Linked DNA regions of Homo sapiens. The protein of the gene in region 1 purifies or fractionates together with the protein of each later gene. This does not show direct contact. Each region holds a gene or a part of one and is shown in the gene's direction. Other genes may lie near its edges.

What was found. Proteins that work in one complex are often made in the same cells at the same time.
Region 2: the proteins of RBM47 (region 1) and YTHDC1 purify together in Homo sapiens (affinity purification with mass spectrometry; one large-scale study listed by BioGRID and IntAct). This does not show direct contact.

Annotation. Positions count from the first base shown.
Region 1 is NC_000004.12:40,441,243-40,444,895, reverse strand, and holds part of RBM47 (RNA-binding protein 47), read left to right. Parts: intron 1-3,653. UniProt on the Homo sapiens protein: Single-stranded RNA-binding protein that functions in a variety of RNA processes, including alternative splicing, RNA stabilization, and RNA editing. Functions as an enzyme-substrate adapter for the cytidine deaminase APOBEC1.
Region 2 is NC_000004.12:68,339,951-68,343,603, reverse strand, and holds part of YTHDC1 (YTH domain-containing protein 1), read left to right. Parts: intron 1-3,653. UniProt on the Homo sapiens protein: Regulator of alternative splicing that specifically recognizes and binds N6-methyladenosine (m6A)-containing RNAs.

The DNA of each region.
Region 1 (3,653 bases):
GTCAGGAGTTCGAGACCAGCCTGGCAAACATGGTGAAACCCCATCTCTACTAAAAATACAAAAATTAACCGGACATGATGGTACGCACCTGTAATACCAGCTACTCAGGAGGCTGAGGCAGATAAATCGCTTGAATCCTGGAGGTGGAGATTGCAGTGAGCCAAGATCATACCACTGCACTCCAGCCTGGATGACAGAGTGAGACTCCATCTAAAAAAAAAAAAAACAGTTAGAATTTAAAAATTAGTCCTGAAATTAAGTTATCATTCAGCATAGGAAAACTATTATACGTAGCAAGCAGAATCTAAGAGCTTCAAGGATGCGCTCTTCCACATCTCCTAGACCAGGGGTCAACAGAGCCGGAGAGTAAATACCTTAGGCTTTATGAGCCACACTGTCTGGGTCTCAACTATTTCGCTTTGCCATTGTAGTATAAAAGCAGCCACACATTATCTTTTCTTTTTTTTTTTTTTAAGGATAGGGTTGTGTTCCAATACAATTTTATTTATAGAAACAAACAGCAGGCCATATTTGGCCCACAGCCATAGCTTGCCAATGCTAATCTAAAGCACATATAATTACAATAAGTTAAGCATTTCATTACATCTTTGAGAGAAGGGTCATGTTAGCTGTACAGTTGTCTTTTTCAAAGTAACTTGAAAATCTTTTCCTTTTCGTTATTGTTGTTGTTGTTTTTGAGACAGGTTCTCACTCTGTTGCCTAGGCTGGAGTGCAGTGGCGCAGTCACAGCTCACTGCAGCCTCAACTTCCTGAGCTCAGGTGATCCTTCCACCTCAGCCTCCCAAATAGCTGGGACTACAGGCACACACCACCATGCCCGGCTAATTTTTGTACTTTTTGTAGAGATGGGGTTTTGCCATGTTGCCCAGGCTGGTCTCGTGCTCCTGAGCTTAAGCAATCTACCTGCCTCAGCCGCCCAAAGTGCCAGAATTACAGGCGTGAGCCACTGAGCCCAGCCTCATTTATCTTTTAATATATCTAAGTGTTTGGCATCTGAATTCATTGAGTAGAGTAGCACACCATATAATTTATTTAATATGGTATATTAAACATGATGATAAGGAGAATAAAACTTGTAGGCCATAAGATTTTCTTGAATGTGTTAACCTGAGTCAGTGTACCTTTTTTTTTTTTTTTTTTTTTTTTTTTTTTTTTTTGAGAAGGAGTTTCACTCTTGTTGCCCAGGCTAGAGTGCAATGGCGCCATCTCAGCACACCACAACTTCCGCCTCCCAGGTTCAAGGGATTCTCCTGCCTTAGCATCCTGAGTAGCTGAGATTACAGGCATGTGCCACCACGCCCAGCTAATTTTGTATTTTTATTAGAGATGGGGTTTCTCCATGTTGGTCAGGCTGGTCTCGAACTCCCAACCTCAGGTGATCCGCCCACCTTAGCCTCCCAAAGTGCTGGGATTACAGGTGTAAGCCACTGTGCCCAGCCCAGTGTATCATTTTTTAATGGCCTCTAATGAAATCCTAGTTTTATCAACTCTAATTTTTGTCTTTTTTGCATCTCTGAACCTTTTCTTTTTTTTAAAGGATTTTGTTTTTACTGTGGTATATTATACATAACATTTTACCATTTTTAAGTGTATGGTTCATTGGCAGGAAGTATATTCACACTGTTGTGCTGCCATCACCACCATCCATCTCCAGACCTTTATTATCCCTAATTAAGACACCCACACCCATGAAGCACTAATTCCCCACTCCTCCCTTTCTCCAGCCCATGGTAACCACTAGTCTACTTTCTGTCTATGAATTTGACTACTCTAGGTACCTTATATAAGTGGAATCATATAATATTTATCCCTTTGTGTCTGGCTTATTTCACTATTAGCATAATGTCTTCAAGGTTCTTCCATATTGTAGCACGTATCAGAATTTTATTCAAGGCTGAATAAGCCGGGCACGGTGGCTCACACGTGTAATCCCAGTATTTTGGGAGACCGAGGCGGGCAGAGCACCTGAGGTCAGGAGTTCAAGACCAGCCTGGCCAACATGGTGAAACCCCACCTGTACTAAAAATACAAAAATTAGCTGGGCGTGGTGGTGTGCGCCTGTAGTCCCAGTTACTTGGGAGGCTGAGGTGAATTGTTTGAACCTGAGAGGTGGAGGTTGCAGTGAGCAGAGACTGCACCACTGCACGCCAGCCTGGGTGACAGAGTGAGACTCTGTCTAAAAAAAAAGCAAAAGAAAAAAGGCTGAATAATACTGCATTGTATATGTATACCACGTTCTGTTTATCATAATCCATTGATCAACATTTGGGTTGCTTCCATCTTTTGGCAACTGTAAATACTGTTGCTGTGAACATCATTATACAAGTATCTATTTGAGTCTTTTGGGTATATACCTAGAAGTGGAATTGCTGGATCAAATGGTAATTCTATGTTTAATTTTTTGAGGAACCACCATACTGTTTTTTACAGCGGCTGTACCATTTTATATTCCTACCAGCACTGCATGAGGGTTTCAATTTCTCCACGTCCTTGCCAATGCTTATTTCCTGTTTTTTGTTGTTTTTATAATAACTATCCTAATGAGTGTGAAGTAGTATCTCATTGTGGTTCTCACTTGTTGGTATGCAATACTTGTAGTTGGTGTAAGAGACACAGCAAATTTGGATATTGCATTAATCAATGTCTGGCTGTAATTAGATATATATGCATGTATGTATGCATTGATTCGTCTCCTCCAAAATTACAACATGGTTTATAAGAACATGTGAACAATAAGATAAATAATACAAACAGCTCAATTCATGTCACTGGGAAAACTGAAAAAATAGAAGAAAACTAAAAAATGAAACTATAACCCAAATTAGATGAACATGAAAGTGTGTTGTAATGTCCCCTACAGTTACTAAAATTGGAGTGAAAAAAATCAATCGTGAACTTCCTAGAGGCCAAAGTAAAAATAAAAACAGGGTCGCTAACATGGTTTGTTTATTACAGAAGATGATAGCATAGGTGAAGAAAGGCTTTTCTTGGCTCATTGATGTAAGAAATAAGCTATCGCTATTTTAAAATATGTAGAGATAATTGTGTTACTGACACCAGCAGATTTCAGACTGAAAGCAAACAGGATTTTTTCTTATATTATTGGGGTTGGAATTGGCAATGACTCCGTAGCCTGACTACTGTAAGACTGTTTTTGTAGGTAGAATAGTAGTTTCAAAGCACAGTTAGGGTGACAGGAAGGCAACTCCACCTATCTCAGCAGAGAGATAAGTTCTATTCCCTTGGACTTTAGTCAGTTAATGTTGTATACAGTACAACAGGTAAGATCTTGAATTGTCTCCTATGTATTTATATATGTACCTGGCATTTCCTGCCTAGGTCACAGATTGTAACTACATGGGTGTTTATGCAAATAGTCCTCTTAAAAATATATCCTTATCTTCCATTTGGAAGAAGGGAAAGGTCTTCATGTTCAGATTTAATGTTGAAATTTCTTGGTTGGGTGTGGTGGCTCATGCCTGTAATCCTAGCACTTTGGGAGGCTGAGGCAGGAGGATTACTTGAGCCCAGGAGTTTGAGACTAGCTGGGGTAACATAGTGAGACTCTATCTCTATTTTAATTGGGATCTTTTTTTTTTTGGTTCCTTTTTTTGTGGAGAACGAGGTCTTTC
Region 2 (3,653 bases), about 28 Mb from region 1:
AGATCATGTCACTGCACTCCAGCCTCGGCAACAGTGAGACTGTCTCAAAAAAAAAAAAAATTTTTTTTTTTTTTTTTTTAAAGATTTTAAGTGATTTTTTAAGGCCGGGCACGGTGGCTCATGCCTATAATCCCAAGACTTTGGGAGGCCAAGGCAGGTGGATCACCTGAGGTCAGGAGTTCGAGAACAGCCTGGACAACATGGTGAAACCCTGTCTCTACTAAAAATAACAAAAATTAGCTGGGCATGGTGTGGCGGGCCTCTGTAATCCTAGCTACTCGGGAGGCTGAGGCAGGAGAATCACTTGAACCTGGGAAGTGGAGGTTGCAGTGATCCCAGATTGCGCCACTGCACTCCAGCCTGGGTGACAGAGAGAGACTCTGTCTCCAAAAAAACAAATTAAAAAAAAAGTGATTTTTAATGTCTATAGTTCTCTATATAGACATCTAAAAAAGGCTTTCAATGTGAAGTGCTTTATGTCATAGAAATTAGGATTTTTGTAGTGCATGAATTGTATGCTTATAGGCCTTTTCTTAACCTGGCATTTCTAATCTTTGTTTACTGTTGTTATTCTTGGGTTGGGATACTACTGTCAAACTATTATGAAGTAATTGAAAGTATACATATCTCTATATAGAATATCAATAATGTTAAATTTCAGGACAAAGGAAATGGTTAAAAACGTTTGTTCAGGTAGGTTAAAAGAAAGTCAACCTAGAACTAGTGGATATTACTTTATATCTAAAAGAGATAATTATTTCTTTTCAAAAAGGATATGCCAGTGATGATTATAGTCTTTAACAGCAGTAGCTTGTGAGAGTATTAAAATGTTTCTTCTTTTATAATTCATTCTACGTTAAAAAAATGAATTAAAATGTATGCAAAGTGTACTTTTTCAAGTCAGTGAAGAATATGGCCAGAAGCAGCAGTTTACATTAGCTTTATAACTTAATACTATAAGCTTTAACATTGACCTATTTAAATGAATTTTTGTTATTAAAAATGCACCTCAAGTATATAATTAAAATATTTACCCTTAAATAAAACTATAGTAATTTTGGAAACATCTGTCATGTATTATGTATGACACTTCTGTCAACAGTGATTGGAATATGTGTCCCCTCTGTTTGAAGCTAGGTAAGCTTTTGTGATGAATAAATACTGTGATGGTGTTGCTGGATTTCTACCTGTTCCCGTCTCTGTTGGGACACGAGAGTCCTAAACTACCATGTAAAAGATCTGCCTACTCGGTGGTTGCCATAGTAATGAGTAATCACACACACAGAAATGTTGGAGAAGCTCCAGCTTTGAATCTTCCCAGCCTAGACATCAACGAGACTTGTCAATGAACAAGCCTTCAGATGATTTCAGCCCCAGCCCCAGCCCCATTTGACTGCAGCCACATGGGAGACCCCGGTTGAGCCCTGGAACCATGAGCCATAATGAAAGGTGTTACCATTTTAAGTCAAGTTTTAGGGTGATCATCTTATACAGCAGTAGATAATCAGAACATGTATGCATATACCATACCTGTTTTGTTGAAGAAGGAATTTTGTTTTGTGTTCTGGACCAGATTTTATATATATCACATAGCCCAGTCATTAGCAAGAGGGTTGGGGCAGGCAGGTTTTATTAAAGTCCAATAGTTATAAGGAAGGAGAGTCTTCTTACAGGTTGAAAAACTCATAGAAGATTCAAATGTCCTGCTTTTCCTTTCCCCAAAACTGACCTTTTTTAAGTGCCTCTTATCAGAGGTGAAGAATCTTGAACTCAGAAAGACTGGGAATTTCCTGATACCTAAATGCAAGCTATAACCTGCATTTCCTTAACCTCCAAGACTTTTCCCCTTGTATATTATATTCCAGTGTATATATAAGGAGTTTCAGTGATGGAGAAAAGTACTTAAAATTTGGTCATTTGTATTATATCAGGGGTTGGCAAAACTCTTTGTAAAGGGCCAAATAGACTTTGTGGGCTGTAAGTGTTCTCTGACATATTCTTTGCTTTTTTTTTTTTCTTGTTAATAAGCGCCTTAAAAACGTAAAAACCATTCTTGCAGGCCATTCTAAATAGGCAATGGGCCATGTTTATCCTGTAGGTTTTAGTTTGCCAGTTTGTGGTAAAACCACACAGTTTATTGATGTTATGGACTATAATACGGATAAAAGTGTGTACATCATTTAAGTGAGGGTGTTATAGTTGATTTTGAATATTTCAGTAGATTTTAAATGTTGTAATGTTAAAGATATAGAGCTTTCTGGTGCACTAATTTGAAATTTATGTTCTAGTATATATGCCCTTTTAATATTTTGCATTTGTGTTCTTTATACTTTGGTTAAAGTTGCTTTTATTGTTCCCCATCTGATTTAACTGTCAATTTCTAAAGCCGGAACTTCATACTAATATCCATTTGTTACTAGACAAGTGTATTTGGTCAACTGGAACATTTGAGCTTCTCTTTCTTTATCTGCAAAGTAATGAATGATTAAACATGCTCTATTTTATATGATTTGTATATATGATATATTTTAAAAGTGATAAAATTTTAAAAGTGACAAAGTATTTTTAAAAAGTAGTAAGCATTGGTTAATATTTGTTGTCTTGAAAAAGGTTGTAGGTGCTTTCTAAAACTACAACCAGTATCTGAATTTGAATTCGTTAAAACTTTAAAACAGTAATACCCCTTTTTATAGGAAAACCAGGCTTTAAGTGTGTTTGAAACTTAAATTTATTTAAATTAACATTCTGCAAAATTATTTCATTCTGTATTAAATTTAGCATGTCTAAAGTATATAATATAAATGTTCAGGGTTCGGGGATGATATTTCTGAATAAGATCTAGTGATTTTATGAAAAGATTTGTATAGCATTATTTGCCTGTTTCATTGTGATAGTCTTGAAATTTTTTCTTTTTGTCTTCTACAAATGTATTTGATTCTGTGAAGACCTGTTGGATCTACTTTTTTACTGATTAGTGAGCTTTGACCCAGTACTTATTAAACATCTGTAAAACATTGATTTACTTCTATCAGACTATTTTTTTTATAATTTAGAGTCCGAAAATGGTGTTTGCCACCATTCAGATCTTGAAGAAATTTTTCTTAGCAAAAACATGAATCTAGATGATGAGAGAAGCTTTTTTGTTTGACATATCTTGATTTTAAATAAGATTTTTTAAAAGTAAACAAAAATAAAAACCCATATAGCCTGTTTTCATTTTAGAAAAATGATAGAAAGTACATATCAGCATTGGTACCACCCAAAATGATCAATTTTGCTATTCCAGACATAGTAATTTTCAGATATCTTTAGATTGTGTCTGTTTCCAAATGTAAAGGAAAATGATATCTTTTCCATTTCCTATGTAACCTTATCGTTTGTATTAACTATTCTCTTCAGTCACAGATTTCTTTCCCACTTTGGGGAAAATTTGAATCCCATTTAACCTGTTTATAGCCCCCAGGTTAATTAATAGACCTTTCTGTAATTCATGTGGGCTTTGTTTTTTTCCTGAAGCCACAAATGTAATTGTTCTGTCTCATCAGTTTTCATGGCTTTATACTTCCTCTTTGGCACACCTTAAATTTGGAAAGATGTTTTTGATATTGGAATAGTTAATGTTTAAACATTTACTATTAGCATTAGTACATTTT